Regions from separate parts of the Homo sapiens genome. Here region 2 is linked to region 1. Evidence: fine-mapped expression QTL. A gene starts in region 1. The other region holds a variant in brackets. All regions are shown on one strand. Distances are between the middles of the regions.

The links. PIP is the estimated chance that this variant, and not a neighbour inherited with it, causes the effect.
Region 2: its variant is fine-mapped to the expression of RNF13 in whole blood (INTERVAL, PIP above 0.99).

Annotation. Positions count from the first base shown.
Region 1 is chr3:149,808,939-149,825,559 of GRCh38, reverse strand. RNF13 (ring finger protein 13) reads right to left here and starts at 12,345. Exons shown (of 10, transcript NM_183381.3): 1 at 12,207-12,345. RefSeq lists enhancers at 12,502-12,611, 12,477-12,988 and a silencer at 12,822-12,971.
Region 2 is chr3:149,851,910-149,865,489 of GRCh38, reverse strand. It overlaps RNF13 (ring finger protein 13), which reads right to left. Exons shown (of 10, transcript NM_183381.3): 3 at 12,894-12,974. Among named protein-coding and RNA genes, the nearest start is that of RNF13, 45 kb to the right of the region's middle. The variant C/G (reference allele first, on the strand shown) is at 7,932.

The DNA.
Region 1 (16,621 bases):
TGGGGTGCTGATGGGTAGGTGTGCAGAGGCAGTCAGGGCACAGCTGCAGGCACCAGGCCTGGAATGTACAACATCTGCATCAAGAGGGTTGCTGGAGGCGGGGCATGGTGGCTCATACCTGTAATCCCAACACTCCGGGAGGCCGAGGCAGGCGGATCACCTGAGGTCAGGAGTTTGAGACCAGCCTGGACAACATGGTGAAACCCTGTCTCTACTAAAAATACAAAAATTAGCCAGGCGTGGTGGTGCCTGTAATCCCGGCTACTTAGGAGGCTGAATCACTTGAGCCCAGGAGGCAGAGGTTACAGTGAGCAGAGAATGTGCCACTGCACTCCAGCCTGGGCAACAGAGCAAGACTAAGCCTTAAAAAAAAAAAAGGGTTGCTGGAGCCTGGGCAACATAGCTAGACTCTGTCTCTACAAAAAATACAAAAATTAGCCAGGTGTGGTGGCATGCACCTATAGTCCCAGCTACTGAGAAGGCTAAGGCAGAAGGATTGCTTGAGCCCAGGATTTGAGGCTGCAGTGAGCTATGATCGCCAGTGCACTCCAGCCTGAGCAACACGGAAAGACTTTGTATCTTAAAAAAAAAAAAAAAATCAGGAAAAATAACTAACAGGTACTAGGCTTAATACGTGGGTGATGAAATAATCTAGTCAGCAAACTCCCATGACACAAGTTTACCTATATAACAAACCTGCACATGTACTCCTGAACTTAAAATAAGTTAAATTAAAAAAAAAAAAAAGAGGATGACCTCTGACCTAGTTCTTTTGGAGCTTTTTGATACAGACATACTTACAAATGGACATTAACTAGACATAATCATATAATCCTGTATGTGTTTATCAATCTACCTAACTATATTTGTGTGTATATCTTTAAAAAAAAAAAGCCCCAAAGGAAAACTAGGACAGAGGTCATTTCCTTTCACAAAAAAAAACCATATATTTTTTCTAGTCTAGGATATTATTCATGTATGTTTTTAAATGAAAATGTTTTACATTATACAACAATTTGATTGTTATACTTATCAGCTTCTAGAGGCTGCCAACATCCTTGGCTTGTAGCCTCTTCTTCCATCTTCAAAGCCAGCAATGGCAGATTAATTCCTTCTTATAGCACATTATTCCAAACTCCTCTTCTGCCTCCCTCTTCCATTTTTAAGGACACTTGTGATTACACTGGGCCCACACAGATAATCTTCCCAACCCGAGGTCCTTAATCACATCTGCAAAGTTCCTTTTCTCATACAAGGTAACATATTCACAGATTCCAAGTATTATGATATGGACATCTTTGGGCAGTCATTATTCTGCCTACCACGGTAATTATCACATTTCTTGGCAACATTCTAATTTATTCATTTACTTATTTATATCAGTGTGGAATCACAGATTACTGTTTTATTCAATGGGTTATAATCTGCTATTGTATTATCATTTTGATGTCCAATTGTTTGGCCAATGGAGGCTTATTCAAGCTAGCTTTTGTGTCTTTTTGATATGTTCCCAACATTCTTGAGCACCTCCTTGTTTTCTGGCACAAGATTTTCCAGTCCTGCCTTGTACTTTTCCTGCCCCAGCCCTGAAATCAGCCATTTCTTTAAAGAGAATATTGTTGTTTATAGGAATATACAGCATCAGAGAAACAACTTTCTCTCAAATAACAAAAAACATAAAGGTCTTTGTATTGTTTTTACAACTTTAACTCCGTAGCTACTTCAAAATTTTAACATGTTATTTTATTTTAATAATATAATGTCTTCCAAAGTTCAAAGTAATCACTTGTATCATATTGTATTATGATTTGTATGCTTTTTTACTTGAAATTATAACAAAGATTTTCCCTTGTTGTTCAAACTCTTCATAACCACTATGTTAACAGCTACTTTGTACTGCTTTATATGGCTGACACATGACTTTGTCTATTTTCTTGCTGTACAACATTGAATTGAACTCTTACTATTACAAATAATTTTCCAATGAATATAAATCTTTCCATACTTCTGATTATCTTCTTGGGATAGATTCCTTGACATGGAATCACTACACCAAAGAAACATTTTAAGACTTCATACATATTGCCCAATTGCTTTCCAGAAAAGAACATTCCTATTTATATTTCCAAATAAATGTGCATTTCATTGTATCGATTCTCCTTTTTTGGTCTTTTGTTGGTGTTAGGTGAAATTATAAATGACAAAAATAGCTAATATTTATCAAATGCTTACTACATATCTGGCTAAGTCCTTAATATACATTATTTATTTTAATCCTCACAACTCTATAGTAGGTTCCACTGTCTTTCCATAAATATAGGAATAAAAACTTAGATCAACAGCATAAAGTGCTTAAAACAGTGCCTAACACACAGCAAGCACTTTATAAATATTTCCTCTTATTTTTAAGTGTTTTAAGTGTTCAGTTACTTGCCCAGTAATACTTACCTCTTAAATAGTGAAGCTAGGATTCAATTAAAAGTCTGTGTCATGAAATACTGCCCTTCCCAAATCATCCAAGTATTGCATAAATTTGCATTTCTTTAATTACTTATGAGGTTGAAATTGTTCACATTTCTATTCATAATGAAATTTTAAGGCTATTTGGAAACTTCAAGAAAAAACAGAAAAACTAATGTATATTAATGGTAATTTACATATTCAAATTAGCTTCTGTTCTAATTTTATCTTTATTATTCATGGATCTCTGTACCAGACTCTGCGATAAATATGGTTTATCCCTGAGGCTTTCTGTGTAACATCAAAATTAAGTTGCAAAATAATTGTAACTTTGAAAATGAATTACGTATTGACACTTCTCTCCAAACCTAAAGAAAATGAAATGATCTACCTTCTTTAATAATGACCAAATATATGTAACGTGATACCAGAAATGGAATAGCCCAAGTATAGTAAGATAATAGTTCAACACTATGCTAAAAACATATTTCATAGTTTTCACATTCAGGGAAATCAGACATCTTACAGATCAAGTTCTTTAGTGTTCCACTTTCCACTTTCTTATTTACCCACGTGATTCAGCTTGCACATGGAAAAAAGAAAGTAAATGACTGTTAAAGGCAATAAATGTTACACACAAAATCCATTGTGTTTCTACATACCAGCAATGAACTATCCAAAAATTAAATTAAGAAAAACTTCCATGTATAATAGTATCCAAATGAATACAATACCCAGGAATAAATATAACAAAGGAGGTGAGAGACTTGTACACCGAAAACTATAAAACACAAAAACAATGCTGAAGGATATCAAACACACATCCAGGTACTCAAAGACTTAACATTATTAAGATGGCAATACTACCCAAAGCAATCTACAGATTCAATATATTACCTATCAAAATTTCTATGGCCTTTTATGCAGAAATGGAAAAGCTGATTCTCAAATTCATATGGAATTGCAAGGGGCCCTAAACAGGCCAAACAATTTTTAAAAAGAAGAACAAAGCTGGAGAACTCACATTTCCCAATTTCAAAACCTTACCACAAAGCTACAGTAATCAAAACAACATGGCACTGGCATAGTGATAGATATATAGACCAAAGGAGTAGAATTGAGCATCCAAAAATAAACTGATACATCTATAGCCAATTGATTTTAAAGATGCCAAAGACCATTCAATGGCAAAAGAACAGTGTCTTCAACAAGTGGTGCCGGGACAACTATTCACATGCAAGACAATGAAGTTGGAATTTATACCATATACAACAATTAACACAAAATGAATCAGTGACCTAAATATAAGGAGTAAAATTATAAAACTCTTGGAAGAAAACATAGGGTTAATCTTCATGGCCTGGGATTTGGAAATGGATTCTTGATATGACACCAAAAGCATGGGTCAAATAAATAAAATGGACTTCATCAAAATTCAAAACATTTATCTATCAAAGGACATTATCAAAAAATTGAAAAAAAAAATCCACATAATGGAAGAAAACATTTGCACATTATATATTTGATAATGAACAGTCTAGTATCTGGAGTATATAAAAACACAACTCAATACAAAAACACCAACAATGTAGTTTTTTAAAAGGGCAAAGAACTTGAATAGACATTTCTCTAAAGCAGATACACACATGGCCAACAAGCACATGAAAAGATGCTTAAAATCATTAGTAATCTGGGAAACGCAAATCAAAACCACAGTGAGATACCACTTCATACCCATAAGGATGGCAATTATAATTTCTTAAAAACAGAAAATAAGTGTAGGCAAGGATGTAGGGAAATTGGAACCCTCACACATTGCCAGTGGGAATGTAAAATGGTTTAGCTACTGTGGAAAGCAGTTTGGCAGGTCCTCAAAAAGCTAAACAAAATTACCATAAGACCCAGCATTCCATTCTTGGTATATACCCGAAAAAGTGAAAACAGGTTCTCAAATAAATCCTTGGACACAAATATTCACAGCAACATATTCATAATAACTAAAAGGTGGAAACAACCCAAATATCCATCGATGGATAAATGGATAAACAAACTGATATATAGACATGGAAAGGAATATTCTTCTGACATGGAAAGGAATATTCTTCTGCTATGAAAAGGAAAGAAGTACTGATATATGCTACATGTGGGTAAACCTTGAAAACATTTTGCTAAGTGAAAGAAGCCAGGGATAAAAACTCAAATATTGAAAATTCAATTTATATAAAATATCCAGAATAAGTAAATCCATAAAAACAGAAAACAGATGTGGTTGCCATGAGCTAGGGGCATCAGGGAATGACTGCTTAATAGGTATGAGATTTTACTTCAAAGTGATAAAAATGTTTTGAAACTAGACAGAAGTGATGGTTGCACAACACTGCAAAGGTACTAAATGCCACTGAACTATTGCTTTAAAATGGTTAATTACGTGAATTTTTACCTCAATTTTTTTTCCAAAAAAAGCAATTAACATTTATAATCCATGTTGGATAAATGTGGAAATTATAAGCAGCTCTTCCTCTTTGAGGGTCAAAAGAGTAAATGACAAACATAGTAAGTATGCAAATAAAGTATTCTTCAACATTTAATGAGGTGTTTCACATCTAAATAAAGTAGATGTTTCTCCCTCATGACTTCATTCAGAAATATTCATTTATCACCAGCTCCTCACTAGGATTATTTCCCGGTGGAAATTCATTCCCTCTATAAAGTTTACCTGGATATTTCTATCATTAGAAACAGAGCCCGGGCAGGGAGTGGTGACTCACGCCTGTAATCCCAGCACTTTGGGAAGCTGAGGAGGGAGGATTGCTTGGGGCCAGGAGTTTGAGACCATACCAGGTGACAGAAAAAGACGGTCTCTTTAAAAAAACAAAAAAAAAAGAAAGAAAGAAACTGAGCCTGAACTACATTCACTTTCAATCAATTCAAGGTCAACGTATTTCTAACTCCTTAAAAATGATTCTAAGCCAAATTCTTGTAGCTGACCAAGAGCTCTCTTACATCAAAGCGCAAAACATCCCAAAATTTCAGTTTTCTTTTCAGTTTACATTAATGTGGCAATAAACATTTAAATGTTTTAATGTCTGAATATTTCATAATTATTAATATTTAATAATTATTAACTCTATAACCACAAAATTGACAATGTTCCTCAGACTTTATTTCAAAGTTAAAAAGACTGATTTCCTCAGGAAGATCTACATCGTTGAAACAACTAGAAATAACAAATACCTTCCTCAGGGAACACCTTCTCTTAAAAGGAATATAAAGGTAGATATAAAAATGCCTGATTATGTTACTGCCTGCATAAAATTCCTTAACAGATTAAGCAGTTTTCAGAATACAGCTCAGAACTAAACTGTGGTTTAGCACAAAGTTCTTCATAAACTGGCTCGTCTCTGTATATTTAGCTTAGTCCCTTGCCATTCCTCCAGTCTTTTTCTCTGTAACCATGAGCACTTTCTCTTCTCCCAGACTCTCATTATATGCTTCTCTATGCCACCAAAATGCAACACAACTAAATGGTCTGTCACTCCCATTATTCCTTAAGCTCCTTAAAGTTAGGAGCTATACATTTTCTAATTCTGTATACAATACCTAGCATCTAGCACAATATCAGAGGCAAGTGACTGTTGTATAAATTAAAGTATGAAAGTGAGTATTATGATCCATTATTAAGGTCTAAAATACTATGGCTTATTTTTCCTTTACATAATGGCAATGGGGGAAACTATATATTAGGTAATATTTTGCTCTATTTTAAAAAATTACAATGTAATCTTACCGGTAAATAGCATCAACAAATTTTGTAGACATCTTTTCTTAAACATTAGTTTATTAACTAAGAGTATATATTTAGCTTGATGCTTATTCAATGGAAGCTCATGCTTGGCTCTATATTATCTACGTTAGTGAAGTGAAACATTAGTGCAAGAGATATTTTACAAGAAGTCGTAAAAACAGATTTTAACTGGACAATTCCAACTACTTCATTTACAGGTGAGGAAATGAACTGAGAGGTTAAGATATTTATGCAAAATCACCCAGCTAATTAGTGGGAATGTTGGGTGACACCCAGACTCCCATAATGTTGATGCTTTCAGCTACAATATAACTTTATTCCTATTCCAACCTCATAGATAAGCCAGGGGATTCTCTTTTTATTTTTATCTTATTTTATTTTTTTGAGACAGAGTCACGCTCTGTCACCCAGGCTGGAGTACAGTGCCGCGGTCTTGGCTCACTGCAACCTCCGCCTCCCAGGTACAAGCAATTCTCCTGCCTCAGCCTCTCAAGTAACTGGGATTACATGAGCACGCCACCACATCTGGCTAATTTCTGTATTTTAGTACAAATGGGGTTTTACCATGTTGCCCAGGCTGGCCTCGAACTCTGGTCTCAAGTGATCTGCCCACCTCAGCCTCCCAAAGTGCTGGGATTACAGACATGAGCCACAGTGCCCAGCCGGATTCTCTTCTTCTCACCCTCAATCTAGGGGGTATATGGGTCCTTAATACATGCCACATTTAACTGACTCCTTTAATCTTTAAGATGTAGCCTCTGCCTTAACACCTTCTCCCTGTAATAAACATTTGATGAGTACCTACGTTTGTTGAGCATTAAACACATCTAAGCCATTCCACTGGGAGGAAGGGGAAAAGGGAGAGACAAATGCGAATAAGAAAGACATGGTCCCTTCCTTCAAATGCTCTGCAAAATTAGTTACAATCTGGTATAGTATTCATTATTACCATCTGCTTAAATAGGTACAAATACATAGTACGAGAAAAATCTAATTACCGTCTATTATGAAAATGCACCTTATTTCTCCCATTAGCAGATAAGCTCCATGCAGGCAAGGATTTTTCTCTTTAGAACAGTGCCTGACAAAGAAGGTACTCAACAAATATTTGAGTGAATAAATGCTACAGAAAAACCCCTAAGTAGTAGGATCCAAGTAATGTTTCCAAAAATGGTATGACAAGAAAAGTAAACCTTCTTCTCATGCTCAACAACATTTTTCTGTTGGTTTACTGAGAACTTGACAGGAAACTGAAAATAGTTGAGATGGATATATTTTACTACTTAATTCAACATCATGCTCTACCCAATTGTACCAAACCCTAGAAAACCTTCCAAGAAAGGAAACCTACAGTCCTTCTATGACTTAGTCCTGAGCCCTTTTTCAAGTACAAAGGGTCTCCAGATGTTTTCCTTTTTTTCTTATAATAGGTTCTGGGATCTCTGTGTTTGCCCCCCACTTGTGAAGATAATAATACTGGTAACAAAAACATCTCAATTACTATCTATCATGTACCAGACCCTTTTCATATATTAACTCAGTATTTCAAAACAACTCTCAGAATTGGTATTGTCATCAACATGGTTTTACAGAATGGGAAAAATGGTAAGCCTCTTATCCTTTGAGTGTCTTCTTCCACAATCCTGGCTATAAGTAAAATACAATCTCATTAGCTGCACCCTGACTTTCATTGTTGCCCCCCATAACAAGCACACAGAGTCTCTGATTCTAAAGGTTTTGCTATTAACCAATTCAAGGTAACAAAGACAGGATAATAAAAATAACAAATCTGGAGATGTTCAAATGTTCAACAATTCAGCATTCAACATATGTTTATAAATGCCTGGTACCACACAAAAATCAGACTCTCAAAATTCTTACGGTGAGAATCCCTAGCCTCCAATTTACTAGCTATTTTTTGAATAAATGGGAGCCTTGCTAGGTCTAAAAGTTTTTCCTCCCCACTACCTTACCTCCTGATCTCCCAGGACACGAATCAAAATACACTAAAGGGAAAAATAATGGGTGCATCTTCATTGAGAAATCTGTACTTGTGAGTAATTTAAGGAGTCACATCCCTCTTGTGAAACTCTGACCCACAGAGGAGTGGTTACTTTTAGGTCATTTCCTTACAATGTAAGCATTTGTTCTCTTCCCTTTTCATAGAATACACAGAACTTCCAGTTTTCATTCTACATTTCCAAACGTCTGAACAACTCCTCAGCTCCAAAAGTAAACTCCCTATCATCCTCTCTCCTCCTAAATCTCCTTCCACCAAAACCTGTTCTTCATGATAATATCCTTATTTCTGTTAATAACATCACTATCCTCCCAAAAATTTGTCCTAGGCCTATACTCTGGTCAGTTCCCAGTGTCAATGTCATTATAATGTCAACATCTTTCAAATCTATACCTTCACTACGATCATCACTTCTTGCCTCAACTACTATAATTAAATTGCATGGTATTCCTACTTCTAGGCTTCCACTCTTCCATTGGACCTGTTCACAAATTATTATCCATAAAGAGAGTTTCTTCTTAACTAAAAATCATATATAAAATCTTTAGTCTGACATTTAAGAATCTCCATAATCTGTATCCATCTATCTTTACCAGTCTGGTCCTTAAACATATATCCTTACCAAATGTATTCTGCTTTTCCTATCTCTATACCTTTGCTTGGGCAGTGTCCTTATGTGGAACTTTTTTTTTTCCACCCTCCTTCAACTGCTAACAATCTTTCAAATGACCTCATCCTCAATGAAAAAAAAAAAAAGGCTAAGGCATATAATTTACTAAACATATACGCCATCTGATTGCTTCACAAATTATCTGAATCCCCACAAAAACAAGTAAGGAAGGAGTTAAGGAAATTGAGGAGGAGCTTCCCCAAGGTCACCAGCAAGTACGAATCCACAATAGCCCCACAGCATTCCATATTTTTTAATGAAATAAGACACAAAAGAGACAGACGTTCTGTAGTCAGAATACCTGTGATCAAATTCCAGCTACTCCACCAGCTACTTGTGTGAACTCAGAAGTTATGTATCTGTGATGCCTTAATTCCCCCACTTCCCACTTAGAAAATGGGGATAAGACAGGCATGATGTATCACACCTGTAATCCCAGCATTTTGGAAGGCTGAAGCAGGTGGATGACTTGAACCCTAAAGTTTCATACCAGACTGAGCAACATAATGAGACCTTGTCTCTACAAAAAAAAAAAAAAAATTTAATTAGCCAGGCATGGGGGTTTATGACTGTAGTCCCAGCTACTTGTCGGGCTAAGATAGGAGGATCCCTTGAGCACGGGAGGTCGAGGGTGCAGTGAGCCATAATTGCTCCAGCCTGGGCAACAGAGCAAGACCCTGTCCCAAAAAAAAATAAAAAGGAAACAACTTACTATCTACCACATCAATGACTGTAAGAACCACCTGAGATATTATAAAGCACTTAGAATTGTATTTGGCTCATATTAACCAATCAATATTAGCTACATTACTGTTTTGTTGTTGTTGATATACTATGCTATATAAACTTTGACAATACCAATCATATGCTGTGTTGTTCCCAAATCAACTTTTGTGTAATGTAAAAGATTCATAAAAGTTTAATATTTTACTTTTATATATGCTCAATAAATATCTATAGAATACATACATTTTTGAACAATGACTCACCAGTATGCTTTATTAAAAGGAATTCGCTTCTAATTTTGTTTCCTCTTTTGGGAAAAGTAACAATGCTTACCAACTTTCTTCCCCTTTTTATGTCATGTGAAACTATCATATGCAATGCCATATGGTAAACATGACAAATGGTGCAAAACACTGTTTTGACTGAAACTCATTTGCCTCCTGCTAAACATCAATTCCCAGATTTAAAAATATTGTTATTTAAATGCCAACCATTTCTAGGTCACACCTACATGAAGTAAGCAAAACATACCATGATAGTTGACCAAACTATTTCATTTCATACATCTCTTATGGCAAGAACTATAAGGCATAAAATGCCTTCCTAGCCAACTTAACTCAAAGACATAAATCTATCCCTTTAGTCATACCCTCAGGCCTACCCTCACTTAGCTAAAGTTAGTGCCTGTAAAAGTTCTGATAAATCTACGTTATTCTGGAATGCAGAAAAATATCAAGGGAAGAAAGCTGAATGCTAGCAACAATTTATGCCCCTCCAAAATTATTGAGAAAATTAGCTTTATACAAGCATAGATGAGAACTTATCCCAAACCCTTCAGTATTATACCTCTCAAACCAAGATTCTGTCTATGATTTGCATTACACATAGAGACAAGATGTCAAGCTGCCTAGCTTCAAACAAAGGCAGAGGTTAAAAAAAAAAAAACTAATAAAACAGTTCTCATTCCCTACATAGAGAAAAATAACTGTGCCTCTCTCCAACAGTTTCCAACAAAACAAAAAAAAATTATGTAATAGACAAATTTTGTTTCATTTAATCCTCATAACAACTCATTTCTTATTTACGGAAAATGTCACAGAATTAGTAAATGGCAGAGCTGAACCCAGCTTGACTCCCAAATTTGGAATTTAGTATTTTGAAACATTTGTTTTTGCCATAATCCATAATACACTTTACATTTCCATCTTCCTCTTGACACACACATACTGTTAAAAACTGAAACAAAAGCTTCTTGCCATAATATTTACTTTTATTCCATACAATGTCCTCTGGTATTTTTTCTTTCTTTATAAAGCTTATGTCAATGTACTAAATTGATTCTAAAATCTATTAATGAATCCTTATGGGCCCTGCACTACAGCACTGCACTACACTTCCTGCACTACAGCACTGCACTACACTTCTTACCTCCTGTTTAAAGTTCTTTTTAATTGCTATCACTGTCCAGTTTTGTTACTTCGAGATGGAGCTAATGTCCACCCATTAAAAAACTGTGCTTAAATAGCATAAACTCTTGAAAGCCCTACCTTAAATCTTGAATTGATCTGTTTCTCCAGAAGAACTCTTTGGAGGCACAGCCACCTTACTTATTTATATTGTATCAAAAACTGCAGATGTTCTCCTTGGAGAACAAACACATCATTGTTGAAAGGAATGCATCAGTTTTCACTGTTTCTGCTGCATCACTGACGAACAGTAATAGCCGGGCAGGTTTGGGGCAACAAGAGAGGACCCGAGCAGCTGCCCACGGTGCTGAAACTGATGATGAAACGACAGTTTTGGAAATTTACTATTTACTATTGTCAGATTAGGACAAAATAGAGGAATTTACCAGACACTGGCAGAGAAAACTGAGTGGCCGCCACCAAAGTTGCATGAGTGCTTCCGGGATACTGCTGTTTGGCTTCGATGTCTGCCCACTCTCTCTTTCTCTCTGGGACAAAGTTATTTAATAAGTGCAAGTCAAGTCAAGTCAAGCATACAGGCAGAGCTGCTGACTGACCGTAGTATCTGGCCCTAGCAGGGGTTAAGTCCCAAACCTGCAATCTGAGCTTCCAGGGAAAGAAAAAGGGGGTGGGGGTAAAAGAGAGGAAGTGACTGCCCTCCTTCTATTCAGAGACAAAACAGCCCCCTCAACTAAAGTCAAGCGATGTGCCCGAGGACGTTGCGGCAGGTACTTGACCAAGAAAAGCCTTCCAAACATGTTTTCCAGGCAGGCTCTTGCAGCCTCAAGAAGGGAATGAGAGAAGCAAAACCGGTAACTCAACTTTGGACACACACAAACTCGCGGAATGAGAGTGCAGGGGAGACTCGGTCCCCCGAGGGCAAGGCTATTTTATTCCTTTTGCAAAAAGCCTAATTGACTTCTCACCCAGCTCTAGAGGAGCAGCAAAGACCTCAGCAGCAGGGCCGACTCCGAGCTCGAGGGCCAACAAGCGGGGTATGTTCTCTGGGCCGCTCGATAACGAGCTGCCCGGCTGCCGCGAAGCCGGACAGGGTCTTACCTTGAAGTCCGGCCCCCGCAACACAAACAGTCTTGCCAGCCGCGTCGCTGCGGGAGAAGTCCCTACCCTGATTTCATGACTGAATATCCGCACCGACCCCCACAGCCCGGAGTACTAGCAGGGACGACAACACCTAGGCGAAGCGGAAGTCCCGCCCCACGCGCCTCATTGGTCCGCACCCAAAGGCACAGAAAACCCACTGGGCAACATGGTTGCCTGTTAAGGCTCTTTCCCACTCTCACGCGGAGTCTCGCTACTTGCTCTAGCCCGGCTCGGAGAAATGCCCAGTTTGCGAGTCTCGTTCTTGGCCGCGTGATCCGTCTTCCCTGGAAGGGAAGAGCAGGGTGGGGCAGGCGTCTGCGGAACTGGAGCGCGGCTGAAGAAGCTGCTCTTGGCAGAGGAAGGGGCAGGCTGGCAAAGTGGATTGGCTGTGGGCGCCTGCCGCTAACCATGTGCCCCTAGAAACGGAGACCGTAGGGTCTGGAGGGCGCGGGACCGAGCGGGCAGGGCCGGTCGGTCTGATCTGCTCCGGCTGTTGGGACAGAGTAGCCCAAGATTCGGCTGCCGGGCTGCCCCCGGGCGGGCCTGGCCCTGGCGCTGACGCGTCTCTTCCCTGCACACTACACTCACCCGACCTACTAAAGAGGCGAGGGCGAGGCCTCATCCGCCCGCCTTCCGTACCGTGCCCAGTCTGAGATCAGAGTGGGTGGGGACCGTGGCCACACCTTAAAGTAGGGCTCAAATTGTTAGAGATGCGAGCGGCCCGAGGTCTGAACGCCAGTCCCCTGAGGCCTGGCTCGGATCCACGCTGGCATCAGCACTCTGGGCCTGACACGCGCCATCCCCGGGGCTTAGCAAAAGTCAAACCATGTGATTCAGGCCCTAGGTCAGCCTTTTAAAACCCTTGCCTCCTTTTGATGAACCAAAAATCTCCTCCCCTGCCGCCCTTCTGATAAGCCTTCCTTTCTGGTTGTCTCAATCTTAAACCAGTCGAAACTTAAATTACCGGATTGTACCATCCACATTGATTAATCATTGCCAACTCGCCACCTTACAAAAGCAGTGTGACTTAGGCAAATATTACAGAGTCCTGAAAGAAATGTCAGGAGACATAGAATCAGGCACTACTTCTGCTTCAAATAATAAGGCACCCTTAATAAGGCCTTTACAGGCTTCAACTCCTTCAACATCATCTTTTAAAAATGGTGGCGAGGAGGCTATCACACAGAGTATTAGTAGAATACCATTGGATGTAACTTGTCACTTTGATTGCTTGGAGAGCCCTGAGTAGGTGGGACACAGCAATGGGGAAAAGACTCTTTCCTTATTGTGTATCCTTTTGTGCCTTTTGAATTTTGAACCTTGCAAATATTACCTACTCAAATAAAATTCAAATACAAGAAATTTAAGATCAAATTTTAAAAAATTAAATAAAAGCTATCAAAGGTACTTTCCTCTTCTGTGTATCCTATGAGTATTCTATGTAGTCTTAACTTTTCATTGGTTGCAAAGACATTCAATACTTAAATCACAATTCTGCCTTTAAGAAAGTCATAAATAAAAGTCAGCATTGGGAATATTACTAAGAAGACTAATTAGTATAAACACATTTATAATATCTCTATAAGCATTTTTTTCATTAAATTATCCCAAATTGGTATATTAAATCAGATTTCTTGCATAACATCAAAATAAATTTTTTTAGGCCGGGTGCGGTGGCTCATGCCTGTAATCCCAGCACTTTGGGAGGCCAAGTCAGGCGGATCACTTGAGGTCAGGAGTTCAAGACCACACTGGCCAACATGGTGAAACCTCGTCTCTACTAAAAATACAAAATTAGCCGGGCATTGTGGTGCACACCTGTAATCCCAGCTACTTGGGAAGCTGAGGCAGGAGAATCGCTTGAACATGGGAGGCAGAGGTTACAGTGAGCTGAGATCCCACCACTGCACTCGGGCATAGGCAACAGAGCAAGATTCCATCTCCAAAAAAAAAAAAAAAAATTAAGTCCACAGAGAGGAGCTTTGGGTTTTGTTGTTTTATTTTTATTTATTTTAGAGACAAGGTCTCACTCTGTTGCCCAGGCTGGAGTGCAGTGGTGAGATCATGTCTCACTGCAGTCCAGAACTCCTGGGCTCAAGTAATCCTCCCACCTCAACCTCTGGAGTAGCTAGGATTACAGGCATGTGCCACCAGGCCTGGCTAATTTTTTTATTTTTTTTAGCCTTACAGTCTGGCTATGTTGCCCAGGCAGGTCTCAAACTCCTGGCCTCAAAGGATCTTCTTGCCTCGGTCTCCCAAAGTGCTAGGATTACAGGCATGAGTCACCACGCTCAGACAAAGAGCTTTGCTTATTCCTTAAAGGCACCTTGAGTACAGAATATTTTACTTCTGGTTTCAACCTGCTCTTCAGATAACAATAGGTATAGTTCTCTCAACTATGAACAAGGTAATGTGTCATTTGTACTGCATTTAGGCTACACTCTGCAAAAACATTTACTCTCCCAACCTGTGCTGAAAAAGGTAAATTGGAAAAAAATATATTGGAAAAATGTATTAATCTTTCTAAAGCAGATTAGACAGTAAGATTGACAGATATCATAATTACAATTTTCAAGAACATGAAGGGTTAATAAGGCACGTGATACTAATATACCACTAATTATCTTTTTAAAAATCAAAATGTGCTTTTAGGGTGTTGTATCTAACAGGTTTTTTTTTTAAACCTTCCTAAAAAGTACAAACAGATAGCACGTAAAAGTAATTGTAGAATCTCCTGCTTCCAAAATATTGTAAGGCAACAACAACAAAAAAAGACAGATACCCAATTATGTAATTGTCTGAAATGGCTTAGAAATAGTTCTCCCTAAATACCAGAAAGAATGCAGGCTGTCTCCTTAAGCACAGAGATTAATCAGAAACCTTAAACAATTCTATATATTATCATATTTAGAAACAGAAAAAAAGTAATTTTAGAATCAGAAAAAAGGTATTTTCATTTTGAAAACAAAATAAAATTATTACTATTAAAAGAAAGAATAAGATCCATAAAGAATTTATATGTGTATGAAATAAGCAATTTTGAAAAGTACCAAACAGAATTTCTACAAATAGCATCAGGGAACTTTTAGCCAAAGATTCTAAAAGATTCTAATTTCTTTGCCAAGTTCCAAATTAATGAATGGGTTCATTAAGTAAGATAAAAAGTGAAAAGTTCAGAACCTAAGGCGATACATATCAGTCAGAGGGTTTTTCAACAAAGTTTATCCAATTTATTTTCAAGGAGTTGAGAAAGATCAGGCAAAAAGAGGTGTGCTTAATGTTCAATGCCTTAAAAATGATCTAGTCATTGTTTTATGTGGGATGAGTTACTTCTCTGTATATCTGAGATGACCAACATGCAAATTCAACTTTTCCTTTGCACACTGAGAACCAGTTTTCCTCTGTTTGCTAACAAAGGAATTACAAAATAAGCATGCAAAAAGTCATATGACATAATGCAATATAAAGATGGAAGAAGTCATTGGGGTGTGAACTGACATAATCACATTAGCAAACAATTTGAAATTGTCTAGGGAGGGTGAAAAAGAAAATTTTCTATGACATAGCAATTCAATCCAAGGAATATACCCTAAAGAAACACAAAATAAATTCATATTTAGGCACATTGTAATAAAATTTAAAGAGGATCAAAGAAAAATAAAACGTTTTAAACAAACAAAAAAAGATAAAATACTTACAAAGGAGTGACAGCTGATAGCTGAGTTGTTTTTTTTTTTTCCCGAGATGGAGTCTTGCTCTGTCGCCCAGGCTGGAGTGCGGTGGTGCGATCTCGGCTCACTGCAAGCTCCGCCTCCCGGCTTCATGCCATTCTCCTGCCTCAGCCTCCCGAGTAGCTGGGACTACAGGCACCCGCCACCATGCCCGGCTAATTTTTTGTATTTTTAGTAGAGACGGGGTTTCACCGTGTTAGCCAGGATGGTCTCGATCTCCTGACCTCGTGATCCTCCTGCCTCAGCCTCCCAAAGTGCTTGGATTACAGGCCTGAGCCACCGCACCCGGCCCAGACTTCTTAGTAGCTACAAAAGAAACTAAAAGTGAGTTAAATAATATCTTCAAATGCTAAAATAAAATAGTTACAACTGTCAGTTTAGAATTATATGCCTAGTTAAGCTGTCATTTAAGAGTGAGGGCAAAATAAAGACATTTTTAGGGAAAATCAGCTTTTACCACTAACAGACTTCTACTAACAGAACTTGTAAAGAATATCTTTAGAAAAATGAAAATCAAACCCAGAAAAAAGAGATGCAAAAAAAAGTATGGAGACCAAAGATATTGAGTATGATTTCCAAACCAGTAGACATAAAAAGGGAATAAAGGAATAAAGAAAACAATATGCAATATAAAGCAGAAAA
Region 2 (13,580 bases), 41 kb before region 1:
TCTCTCTCAAAAAAACGAAACAGGAGGGTATAGGGCTGGTCAATGAACAAGACAGCTTTTGAGGTTATATCTTAAATATTCCTGCTTTTACTATTAATGGTGATGATTATTACAACAAATATAATGTCTGTTTTATACATATATATATATATATATATATCACCAAAACATCTAGAAAGAAGTTTCATGAATGTGTTGAAAGGGTTAGCCCCTTTGCACAGGCTCCAGTCTACTGTAACCATTGATAAGTACCACTTCTGCAGACAGCCAGAAAAGACACTTTTATGGAGATGCTTGTTTTTATTTTTTTTTATTTCTTAGATCACACTGGTTAAGGAGAAATATACTCCAAATGCCTAATTTTTCTTCTCTTGGTTTTGGAATTTTGGTTGTCCCATCTAAATACAATATATCTTATTAAACATCCACTATACCTTTCTTTATATCATCAGAATAACCTGATTGCAAATAAAATTTCATTTACATATAAATTAATAAATATCTTCTCCCAAAGTTTACTACTTCAAATTAATCTGCAGACATAAATAGTTTGCTAGTGACCTCGACATTAAAAGAAAAAAGGAGGGAGGGATGGCAACAAATCATAGTGTCCAGAATAAAGCTAGGAAATATGATCAATAATTTCTTTTTTATTTGAGCTGATATGGAGAGATTTAAGCAAAGGGAAATCATAAAAGATCCAGTTGACATTCTTTTTGTCTTTATCAAATTTAGTTCTCAATAACAATAGCATAATTGGCAAACATTTAATGACTATAACCTTCAGTTTTGTTTTACTTAACACAGTACTGATTTGTCAGGATTTTGATTTTATGATATTCCAGCTCTGTGAAGAAAAGGTCATCTGGTGTGTGCCTCTCATTTGGTACACACAGATAATGTGTGTTCACTCAATGGATATGATACCTTGACATTTTAGAAAACAAAATGAATGTGCGCTCTGGAGGACAATGCCTTTTAATTGATACGTTACTGTCTTGGTGCGTTTATACTGCTATAAAGGAATACCTGAGGCTGGGTAATTTGTAAAGAGGTTTATTTGGCTCATAGTTCTGCAGGCTATACAAGAAAGCACACATACACACACACACAAAAGGCATGGCACCAGCATCTGTTTCTGATGGCCTGCTTCCACTCATGCATAGTGGAAGGTGAAGGGGAGCCTGTGTGAGAAGAGATCACATGATGAAAGAGGAGAAGAGAGGGGCCAGACTCTTGAACAACTAGCTCGTACAGGAACTAAGAGTGAGAATTCATTCATTACAGCAGAAGTCACCAAGCCATTCATGAGGGATCCACTTCCCTGACCCAAACATCCTCCCATTGTGCCTTACCTCCAACACTAGGGATCAGATTTCAACATAAGGATCAAATATCCAAACTATGGTAGTTACATTCATACTAATACTACAACCACATCATCATTCTAAAAAAAAAAAAAAAAAAAAAAAAAAAAAAAATTCCAATCAAACATTGCCATTCCAGCTACATGCAACAAAATAATTTCTCTAAAAACAAGAATTCTAAGTGGATTGTGCTTACACTAGCAATCCATGTCCTCTACAATTGCCATATAATCAGTACAACCCAGTAAAGAATATTTATGCATAATTCATATTCTATAGTATTTGACAAATCCTGTAAAAACATAAAGAGGTTAAATGTAATAACTACAGAATTCTTAACAAAATCTTTGACAGCAAGAGTTCAGAAACAAATACAAAAAGTAAATCCATGAAAACTTAACAGGCATCAGAAAAATTCTCCTTTAGTATTATGAACAAATGTAGCCCGGGTGTGGTGGCTCACACCTGTAATCCCAGTACTTTGGGAGGCCAAGGCAGGCAGATCACCTGAGGTCAGGAGTTCAAGACCAGCCTAGCCAATATGGTGAAACCCTGTCTCTACTAAAAATACAAAAATTAGCCAGGCGTGGTGGTACACGCCTGTAATCCCAGCTACACAGGAAGCTGAGGCATGACAATTGCTTGAACCCAGGAGGCATAGCTTGCAGTGAGCTGAGATTGCACCATTGCACTCCAGCCTGCATGACAGAGCGAGTCTCCATCTTAAAAAATAAAAAAAAGAATCAAGACTAAGAGGAATTCTTTGGTAATGAAACATAAAACATACTGTTTTCCAAAACATAACAAACACAACCACAACAAAAAAGACCCTCACTCATTCATTACTTACCACAGCACTTGCCATTTGCAATTTGTCATTATAACTCAGTTTATAGTTGAACACAACCTGGTTAATTAAAGTTGATACAATTTGCTTATCAATCTGATTAAAGGGATCATAATGATGGAAATGGTCAGATCCTAACTAGAGGAATTATTTCAGTATTCAGAATTCAAAGAGAATGGCAACTGGCAAGAAGGGATAGTGCAGGCAAACAAAAGTAGGGAGAACAATTACAATACCTTAATAAGGGTACTGTCATTGCCATTAGTTATTCTGTTAATTTCAAAGGTGACGATTACTCATTCATTTATTTCATGAAACAGGGAATATATCAAATGTAAAATATAATGAATTATTTTATTACTTATCACTTACAGAAGAAGGGAGATATTACTAAACTCATCAAAGTGGCTGGACATTCTTTTATACCAGCAGTATATAAAAGTACCTGGTTTCACATCCTTGCCAGTTGTGGATATTGTTAGACTCCTACTTTTACTAATTTGATGAGTGTGAATTGGCATCTAGTTATAATATATACAAGGAGACATATTTAAAAGATGTTCACTAAAAAAGAAAGTAAAAAACTGGCATCTACCAGCAAATGAATGAAAAAATAAATTGTGGCATATTCATAAAATGCAGTATGCAACAGTTAAAATGAATTAGGAATATGTAATAACAAAAATTTCAAATATAGTGTTAGATGGAAAAGCAAGTTTTAAAACCACAGCAAAGAAAATTTAAATGGAAGCACAATGTTTATAGATGCATATATGGTAGAAAAAATATATATATGTATGTTTTATAACATAAATAGGAAAGATACACATAAGTTTCAGGATAATGATCATCTATAAGGAGCGAGGTAAGGGAACAGAATATGGTAGGATAAAAAGGATGTTTCAGTAGTATCTGTAATATTTTATTTCTTCTTTCAAAAAAATAGTAAAATATTAACCTCTAGGTAGCAGATATACAGGATGCTCTGTTATTCTCATACTCTAGTCTATGCTTGAAATATTTCCATTTTTAAAAAGTGAAAGCAATCTAAATGTCCAATGACACAAGGGATTGGTTACATTATGGTGTAATTTAAGTACTATAATAAATTGTATAATTTTGAATGATGATATGAATGTATAGATTTTTATATGGGAAGATATCCATGATATTGGATATGCCATCCAACATATTGCCAATTTTTTTAAGTTGCAAAATAACACATATAAGTGCATAAAATGAAGGCATGAATGTGTCTACATAAGTTCACACAGTTGTACCCAAACATCTACCATTATAATCTTTAATTGTAGAATTATGTATGATTTTCATATTCTTTTAAAACTTTATTGGCATTTAATATTTTGTATATTTATGGGGTGCGTGTGATAATTTGTTACATGCATAAAATGTGTAATGATCAAGTCAGGATACTTGAGGAACCTATTACCTTGAGTATTTATCATTTCTATGTGTTGAGAACATTTCAAGTTCTGTCTTCCAGCAACTTCAAAATATACTTAATACATTATTGCTAACTATAGTCACCCTACTCTGTTATCAAACATTAGAACTTATACCTTCTATCTAACTGCATGTTTGTACCCACTGACCAACCTTTCTTCATCTCCCCCTCTCAACCACATCTTTTTCTCACCCTCTGGTATCTATCAATCTACTCTCAACCTCCATAAGATCAACTTTTTTAGCTCCTACAAATGAGTGAGAACATGGGATATTTGTTCTTTCTCTGCCTGTATAATTCCACTTGACATAATAATCTCTAATTCCATTCATGTTGTGACAAATGACATGGTTTCATTCTTTTTTACAGCCAAATAGTATTACATTCCATATATATACTTTTTTTAATCCATTCATCTATTCATGGACAGTAGGTTGATTCCACATCTTGGCTATTGTGAATAGTGACATAATAAACATGCAAGTGCAGGTATCCCTTTGATACACTTCTTTTCCTTTGGATAAATACCCAGTGGTGGGACTGCTGGGTCCTATGGTAGTGCTATATTTAGTTCTCCCCCACCCCCTTTTAAGTTTTTTTTTTTAAATCTCCATACCGTTTTCCACAGTAGTTGTACTAATTTACATTCCCACCAACAGTGTATGAGTTCCCTCTTCTCTGAATCCTTGCCAAAATCTGTCTTTTTTTTTGTCATTTTAATGATAGTCAGCCTAACTGGATTAAGATGCTATCTCGCTGTGGTTTTGATTTACATTTCCCTGATGATTAGTGATGTTAAACATTTTTTTCATATGCCCGTTGGCCATTTGTATGTCTTCTTTTGAAAAATATCTGTTTAGATCATTTGCCCTTTTTTAAATCAGACTGTCTTTTTGCTGCTGAGATGTTCAAATTCCTTATATATTCTGGATATTAGTCCCCTGTCACATGGAGAGTTTGCAAATATCTTCTCCCATTCAACAGGTTGTCTCTTCACTCTGTTGACTCCTTTGCTGTGCAAAAGCTTTTTAGTTCAATATAGCATCATTTGTCTATTTTTCTTTTTGTTGTCTGTGCTTTTGTGATTTTAGCTGTAAAATCTTTGCCTAGTTCAATGCCCTGAAGTGTTTTCCATATGTTTTCTTCCAATAGTTTTATAGTTTGGGGGCTTTAATTCTTTAATCCATCTTGAGTTGATTTTTGTATATGGTCAGAGATGAGGGTTCAGTTTCATTCTTCTGCATATGGATATCCAATTTTCCCAGCATTCTTTATTGAAGAGACTGCCCTTTCCCCAGTGTATGTTCTTGGCACCTTTGTCAATAATCATTTGGCCATAAATATGTGAATTTACTTCTGGATCCTCTACTCTGTAGCATTGGTCTATGTGCCTGTTTTTATATCAGTACCATACTGTTTTGGTTCTTACAGCCTTGTTATATGTATGTGTGTGCATAATATGTATATATGTGTGTATACATTATGTATAAATACATTATATATACACGTTATATATATATATATATATATATATATATATTTTTTTTTTTTTTTAGATGGAGTCTCTCTCTGTTGCCCAGGCTGGGGTGCAGTGGCATGATCTCAGCTCACTGCAACCTGCATCTCCGTTCAATGATTCTCCTCAGCCTCCTGAGTAGCTGGGACTACAGGTGCCCACCACCATGCCCGGCTAATTTTGTATTTTTAGTAGAGATGGGGTTTCACCATGTTGGTCAGGCTGGTCTTGAACTCCTGACCTCAAATGCTCCACCTGCCTCGGGCTCCCCAAGTGCTGGGATTACAGGTGTGAGCCACCACACCTGGTTGCCTTGTAATATATTTTGATGTCAGGTAGTGTGATGTCTCCAGCTTTGTTCTTTTTGTTCAGGATTTCTTTGGTTATTTGAGGTCTTTTCTGGTTCCATATAAATTTTAAGATAGTTTTTTCTATTTCTGTGAAAAATGACATTGACATTTTGAAAGAAATTTCATTGAATCTGTAGACTGCTTTAGGCAGTATGGTCATTTTAATTATACCAGTTCTACTCCATGAGCCATATTCTTTTTCATATCTATATCATCTTAATTTTAATGGTGAGCATGTATCACTCTTCTAATGAGAAAAATATTTTTTCATGAGCAGAAGAATAAAAAATTAGCTATATTGAACTGAGAAAGCCACTAAGAAAATCTAGTAAAAACTACTAAGTGAACAAAAAAGATGCCCAGTAATGCAATGAGAAAATGAAGGGAGTGTGTTGATTTATGAAATCAAAAACCTGAGCCTCCTTTGACTTCCTCTGTGTGTGTGTGTCTTTATCTCCCCTCTTCTCTAAGTGATAATTTGCCATGATGAAACAATTATTTTCTAAATCAAATGAAATGCTATATTCCTGCTTCATTTAATAAATGAATAAGCAACCATTACTTTTTGAAATTAAGAGGAAAGGGTTTATTTTAGAAGCTCAAAATTCACTTCAAAAGTATTCTTTTTATACCATCTAACTATGTGCATGTGAAAATGTCCTTAGATCTTAGAATTCTTATTTCATGTATAACCAGATGGTTTGACTCTTTATTTTGACAATGCTATTTCTTTATTTATCCTTTGAAAAAGGAACTCTGACCTTTGTTTTCGTTTATAAACTGAGGGTGATACTGTAACATAAGGGTGAGGAAGTCCAGCACATTGAGCCTTAACCAGGGCTTTCTTCACATCACAAAACTGTGTAAGTGTTCTGAGAGGAAAAATACACTAAGTGGCACTGAGCTTCTTTCCTGCAAAGAAAGCAGGCAAAGGACGTAACACAAATAAAACATCCAAACAACCACATTTCTTTGCAATGTTTGCATTTTCCTTCACCAGGGAAAAAAACTCTCTTCTAATCTCAAGACTTTATATTAAACAAAATCATTTCCTGTAATAAGAATTTTGAAATTAACTGGTAAATTAACTTTCAAAGAACAAGCCTAGTTTGTGGAAAATTAACTGGTGATGATATAAGGCACTAATTTAATGAATAATGATGAGGGGAAATAAATTATACATCATATAAGAAAAACTGCTTATTTGCAACTTTGTTCTGGATAGTAGGAACAGCATAGTCTAGGACAAATCCGCATCCCATGATCTTCATCTCTTCTATCTTCTTCCTCTTCAACATAAAGAATATACCCTGACTACCAGGTTACAAAACACAGTATATATGGATCATGGCAAATCTAGCCCAAAAGCTGTGTTGCTGAAAATGAGATTTGCCATTGATAATTATACTCAGGTAATCTGACACTTGGCTTACTGATCAAAGCTTCCTTATCAGAGATAAATCTTGTTTTCAATTTTTTAACAATCATTATCTCCTCCACCTATCAAGGCACTTCCTAAAAATATAGAAACAAGAAATCTGGAGAAGCTTGTTCTCCTGAGACTGGCCCTCAATGTGTAACTAAATTATTCCAATTATACTGATAATAAAAAGTATAGCAAGAGACCTTGCTTGCTACCATTACAAATCCACATGTAAAGTCTTGACTACTGTCTTGGTCTATTTTGTGTTTCTATAACAGCACACCTGAGGCAGGTTATTTATAAAGGAAGGAGTTTTATTTAGCTCATGGTTGTGCAGGCTGTTTAAGAAGCATGGCACTGGCACCTGCTCAGCTTCTGGTGAGGGCTGCATCAAAACATGATGGAGAAGGCCAAAGGAGAAGTGGGCATATGTGAAGAGGGACCAAACCTAAGCGGTGTCCTGGCTTTATAACAACCCACTCTTGAGGGAACTAACCTATTCCGTTGGAACTAATTCCATCTAGCCAGAGAGAGAATGGCATCAAGCAATTCATGAGGGATCTGCCCCCATGACCCAAACACCTCCCACTGGGCCCCACCTTCCAACACCCCCACAATGGGGATCAAATTTCAACATGTGATTTGGTGGGGACAAAAAAACCATATCCAAACCATAGTAACTACTCAATAATGATTCTTTAATACTTGGTTATCCATTTGAAAAAGGTAAAAATAGAGTCATACGTTACATTATACAATAATAATTCTTGGCCTCCTAAGCATAGAGTGGGGGAAGGGGATGGGGAAAGGTAATCTTTACCAATTTTTTGAGGACGTAGGAAAGTATATTTATACTGCTAAGTAACATTATTTATCTTTTCAAAGACAAAACATGTTTTCCAAAAAGAACAGTTGTATAGTTCTGAATTTTGCCAAAACATATAAATATACTGTTCAAAAGAA[C/G]TGTAAACTAATTACTAATGGTACTCAAAGGTTACAAGGTCTAAAAAGGTTGTCTGGAAAAGGTAACTTCCTAAACAGCCAATTAAAATATAAAACTACAAACACAGGACTTACCTAGATACAAAAATAAAATCTTTCTTTTAAAACTTCTGTAACACTGATGTGCCATATTTTAATCCATGAAAAGATTTACATTTTTGCATTAAAGTTCAAATAGGTCAAAATTCCTTGGCTTTCTCATTTTCTTATACTTGAATAATAGTATTTTTTAAGATACAGGAGAGGACAGAAAAAGGCTTTAAATACAATTAACCTAATATTGGGGCATATATAAATAGAATGTAAACAGAATTTCAACTGATATATTATACTATAAATATCTGAAGTCTTATAAATGATTCTGATGGAATCCAGGGATGTTATAAAAGCTACAAAATATAGAACATAAATTAGACCTACAAAAACTATCTCACCTAAACTTTCTGGGCAGAGTTTAAAAGTAAGATATTTTGGGCCGGGCATGGTGGCTCACGCCTGTATCCCAGCACTTTGGGAGGCCAAGGTGGGTGGATCATGAAGTCAGAAGATTGAGACCATTCTAGCTAACACGGTGAAACCCCATCTCTACTAAAAATACAAAAAAATTAGCCGTGCGTAGTGGCGGGCGCCTGTAGTCCCAGCTACTCAGGAGGCTGAGGCAGGAGAATGGCGTGAACCCAGAAGGCCGGAGCTTGCAGTGAGCCGGGATCACACCACTGCACTCCAGCCTGGGCGACAGAGTGAGACTCCGTCTCAATAAAAAAAGTAAGATATTTTGGCCAGGTGCAGTAGCTCATGCCTACAATCCCATCACTTTAGGAGGCCGAAGCAGGAGGATTGCTTGAAGCCAGGGGTTCGCAACCAGCCTGGGAAACATAGCAAGATTCCATTCCTAAAAAAATTTAAAAATTAGCCGGGCACAGTAGCACACTCCCATAGTACTAGCTACACAGGAGCCTGAGGTGGGAGGATGGCTTGAACCCAGCAGTTGGTGGTTTCAGTGAGCTATGATCATGCCACTGCACTCCAGGCTGGGCAATAGGGCGAGACTCTGTCTCAAAAAAAAAAAAAAAAAGTATTTTTCAGCTAAGTCTCATAATAACCATATTATATCTTTAAATTAGTTATATTTTTAACGTATTTATTTAATTGGTTTTACAGACATAATACTATAGTGAGCTACCTCACTTCATTATTATCAAGTCCTTGTAAACAAATGTAAATCTTTGCATGGCTGGCATTTTAAATTCTGATTCTGGGCAATGGCAAAACCAGTCACGCAACTATAAAAGCTACCCATAATAATCCAATAATTTTGTTAGAATATTTCACTTCTCTTCTTGCCCTATATTGTCAAGTGCAAAAAGCAGACAGATATCTAACACCGTTTTTTTTTTTTTGGTCAGGCAGTGAATAAACAAACTCATCAACATATCTTTTAAATGTAAACCAAATTTATAGTAGCACAGTAATTGAGGAGCACCAATAAGATTATGCTTATCGAGAATTAATGGAGCTCTTTAAAATAAGCTTATTCAGTAGAAAAGCTCTTCAGTGAGAAGGAATAGTCTGACTCCTTATGATAGAATGAAAGAAAGGTTGCCAGATCATCATTAGTAATCAGAGAAATGCAAATTAAAACAAGATAATACTTTTGCCCATCAGATTGGCAAGAGTTAGAAAGACCGATAATATCCAGTGTTGGCAAGAGTATAGGGAGATAAGTATTCTCCTACAGTGTTAATGGGAATAAATTAGCACAGCCTTTGCAAAGGTAATTTGGCAGTATCTATGAAACTTTTAGATGTACATACCCATTGGTTTCATCAATTCTACTTCCAGACCTCTATCCTAGAGAAATAACAACTTTGGGGGAAAAAAAATACATATATATATACACACACATATATATGCACACATATATACACGTATATATATACACATATATACGTATATATGTATTTTTAATATATAAATGTAAAGATACATATATATTTTTTAATGCATAAATGTAAAAATACATATATATGTATTTTTAAAGAGGAAATTACTAATAAACTATGATCATTCATATTACAGAATACCATGCAGTGCTTAACAGGAACATACTAGATTTATAGATGCTGCTGTGGAAAGAGTTCTAAAACAGAAGAAGTAGGGGAATCAAACTGCAGAGTAGTTATTTATTTATTTTTATTTTTGAGACAAGGTCTCACTCTGTCGCCCAGGCTGGAGTGCAATGGCTTGATCGCGGCTCACTGCAACCTCACCTTCCTGGGTTCAAGCGATTCTCCCACCTCAGCTTCCCAAGTAGCTGAGACCACAGGCTTGCGCCACCATGCCCAGCTACTTTTTATATTTTTTGGTAGAGACAGGGTTTCACCATGTTGCTCAGGCTGGTCTCTTGACCTGAAGTGATCTACCCACCTTGGCCTCCCAAAGTGCTGGGACTGCAGATGTGAGCCACTGCACCCAGCCCAGCCTTGCAGGGTAATTATTGCAGTAGACATCTGTCACTCACGGTGCTCCAAATTTTCTGAACCCACTACGCATTCCACCTTCCCAAAGTAGGCTAAAACAACAAAAATAACAACAACAAAAACCCTACATTGTATTTCCCAGCCTTCCTCATAGCTAGGTATTTCACCAAAATATGTAGCAAGTAACTATGTGGCCAAAAGTCTATCACTCAGAAAAATCCAAGTGTTGGATTTGGAAGTAGACATGTAAGGAAACAGTCTGAAAAAGGGTATCTCTTCGATTAGCTTGGATGGCAGAAGAGGCCAAATGTTGTGAGGTAAAACCACAAAGGCTTCCTGATGAGAGAAAAAATAATGTGGTGTGAGGGTCCATTGGCTGCACCACTCATCTATAAAGCCAGTCCTGCAAGGTGGTTCTGGGTTTTATTCCTGTAACAGTTTAGAAACTGCCTGTCCAGGCTATGATACTCTGAACATCTTTATCCCTTTATAAATCCCTTTCTGGGTAAAACTAGCTAGAGCGGATTCCATTGTAAGAATTAAGAAACTTTTCATATATACAAATGATAACCATTTATGAATTATACATGTTCATAAGTTTATGAACAAAAAAGAATGAAAAAGCATTACATGTTCAGAAAAGGATCTGAAGGCCTGTAAAATCACTGATAATATTTAACTCTGAAGAGGGAAGTGTGACTGCTACATATAGGTAAGAAAAGAATAAAAGAAGGTGTTTCCTTTTTCTTATGTATATTACTTTTCGGTTGAAATATTTTTATGAGAAATAGTCATACAATGCTATGAATTTTTTTTTAATAATTAAAAATTCAATGCCCCTCCCAGAGGTGTCTGCCATCCTAATTAAGAATAATAGGTTTGTGGTATCTTACTAAGAAATTCTGGCTAGGCACGGTGGCTCATGCCTGAAATACCAGTACTTTGGGAGGCTAAGGTGGGCGGATCACTTGAGCCCAGGAGTTCAAGACCAGCCTGGGCAACATGGCGAAACCCCATCTCTACATAAAAATACAAAAACTAGCCGGGCATGGTGGTGCCCACTTAGTCTCAGCCACTCGGGAGGTTGAGGTGGGAGGATCACTTGAGCCCAGAAGGCGGACGTTGCAGTGAGCCAAGATTGTGCCACTGTGCTCCAGTCTGGGCAACAGAGTGAAACCCTACCTTAAAAAAAAAAAAAAAAAAAAGAGAAATTTTAAGAAAATTAGAATAAACTGAAAACATTCTATGGTACATATCCACACAACTTCATGAATTCATATAACAAAAAACTAATATTATCTTGGAATGAGAAAGGACTTTCTAACCCCCAGAGGTAGAGGAAAAAGAAGAATTTTTAACTACTTAAACAAAACTTTTGAAATCTTAAAAAAAATTAAAAGATAAACGAAAAACTGAAGAAGGGATAATCTGAAGCATATATGGCAAACAATAAATTGATACTTCCAATATATAAAGAACTCTTACAAAGCACAAGGACACTTTCATTTCAAATTGGGCAAAGAGCATTAATAGTCCATTCTCTCTCTCTCTCTCTCTCTCTCTCTCTCTCTCTCTCTCTCTCTCCCTCTCTCTCTCTCACACACACAGCAAAAAATATGTTTAAGTTCATTAGATTTTTTAAAATCAAATTAGCAAAAGTTTGATAATATCTAGTATTTAAGAGGGTATAGGGAAAAGGACAGTCTCAGATGTTATTGATAGAATTCTAAATCGTTCCAAACTTTTTGGAGGAAGAACTGAAAATACAGAACAAAACTTTAAACATTCATGCCACAAAGCAATTCTACATTTGGAAATGTATCCTATGGAGATAAATGGATGAATACACAAAGACAAAAACATTCATTGTAGCACTGTAATAGTAAAAACTAGACAACCTAAATATCCACTATGAAAAACTAAAGCAATGTTCAAAATCCATACTATTTCATGATATTGCAAAACCATGCAGCTGTTACAATTAATAATGTAAATCCTTACCTATCAGCATGAAAAAACATGATCAAAACATACAATTAAAAGAAAAAGGCAGGTAACCAAATAGCATGTTTCTATTAGTGTTAAATACAGATTTACTGTATATGAAAGCATTTACATATATATGTAAATGTGTGTGTACATATATATATGTACACACACATACATACATCTACAAACACACGCATAGCACATATCCTAAAAAAACAGGTCTGAAATGTGATATACCAAAATGTTAAACACAGCTAGTTCAGAATAATACAATCCTAGGTGATTTTCACTTTCTTTCTGATATCTTTTGAATAATCTGACCCTTTACAAATGACTATATATAGGCTTTATAATAATAAATAGTAAGAAATGATTTCATTCTTTAAATAATAAACAATAAAAATCACCTTATTAAATACCTTGTGTCTTTACAATGTATTACCAACTGTCTTACCTTTAAACCTTCAGCTGGAAGTCTATAACCAAATCTTGCAGGGAGGTCATCAAATGTCTGAGATGCATTTTCAAAGTTATACTAAAAATAAAATTTTAAATATTCAAGTTAAGACCAATTTATATATAACATTAAAAACAAAGACTTATTTAATTATGTATAATTATTATTTTGACAATTCTGATTACTATCACAGCTTATCAAAATAAAACTGAATTTGTAAATGTACATCCACTAAAATAGAAGGAATATATATAATTTACAACATATACAACTGCTTAAATTGGATTATTATTTCAAATATTATCGAGCAGCAACACTAATTCAGCCTACTGTTTTCTGAGTTTTTCCCATAGACAATTTCCTAGCAAGGAATTTTCCAGACAGATCATCTTCCAGGAGGAGTGTTCCATTTTAATTTCTCTGTATTATAAAGGTCTGATTTACTGGAAGAAATTTACAGCATTTCTGGCTCTAGCTATGAAAAATGACTTTCTTTTTGGAAAGAAGCAGCATCATATCATATTTTTAAGGCATGTCAATTTTGTATAAGCTGAACATTTTTATCCAGGGTTGAACACTGAAAAGACCAAATTCAATGAAATACATACACGGAAAAAGCTGGAGGTATTCAAACTCTTTAACAATTTTCCCCCTTCCACACAGATATAGATTCCAAAGCTACAA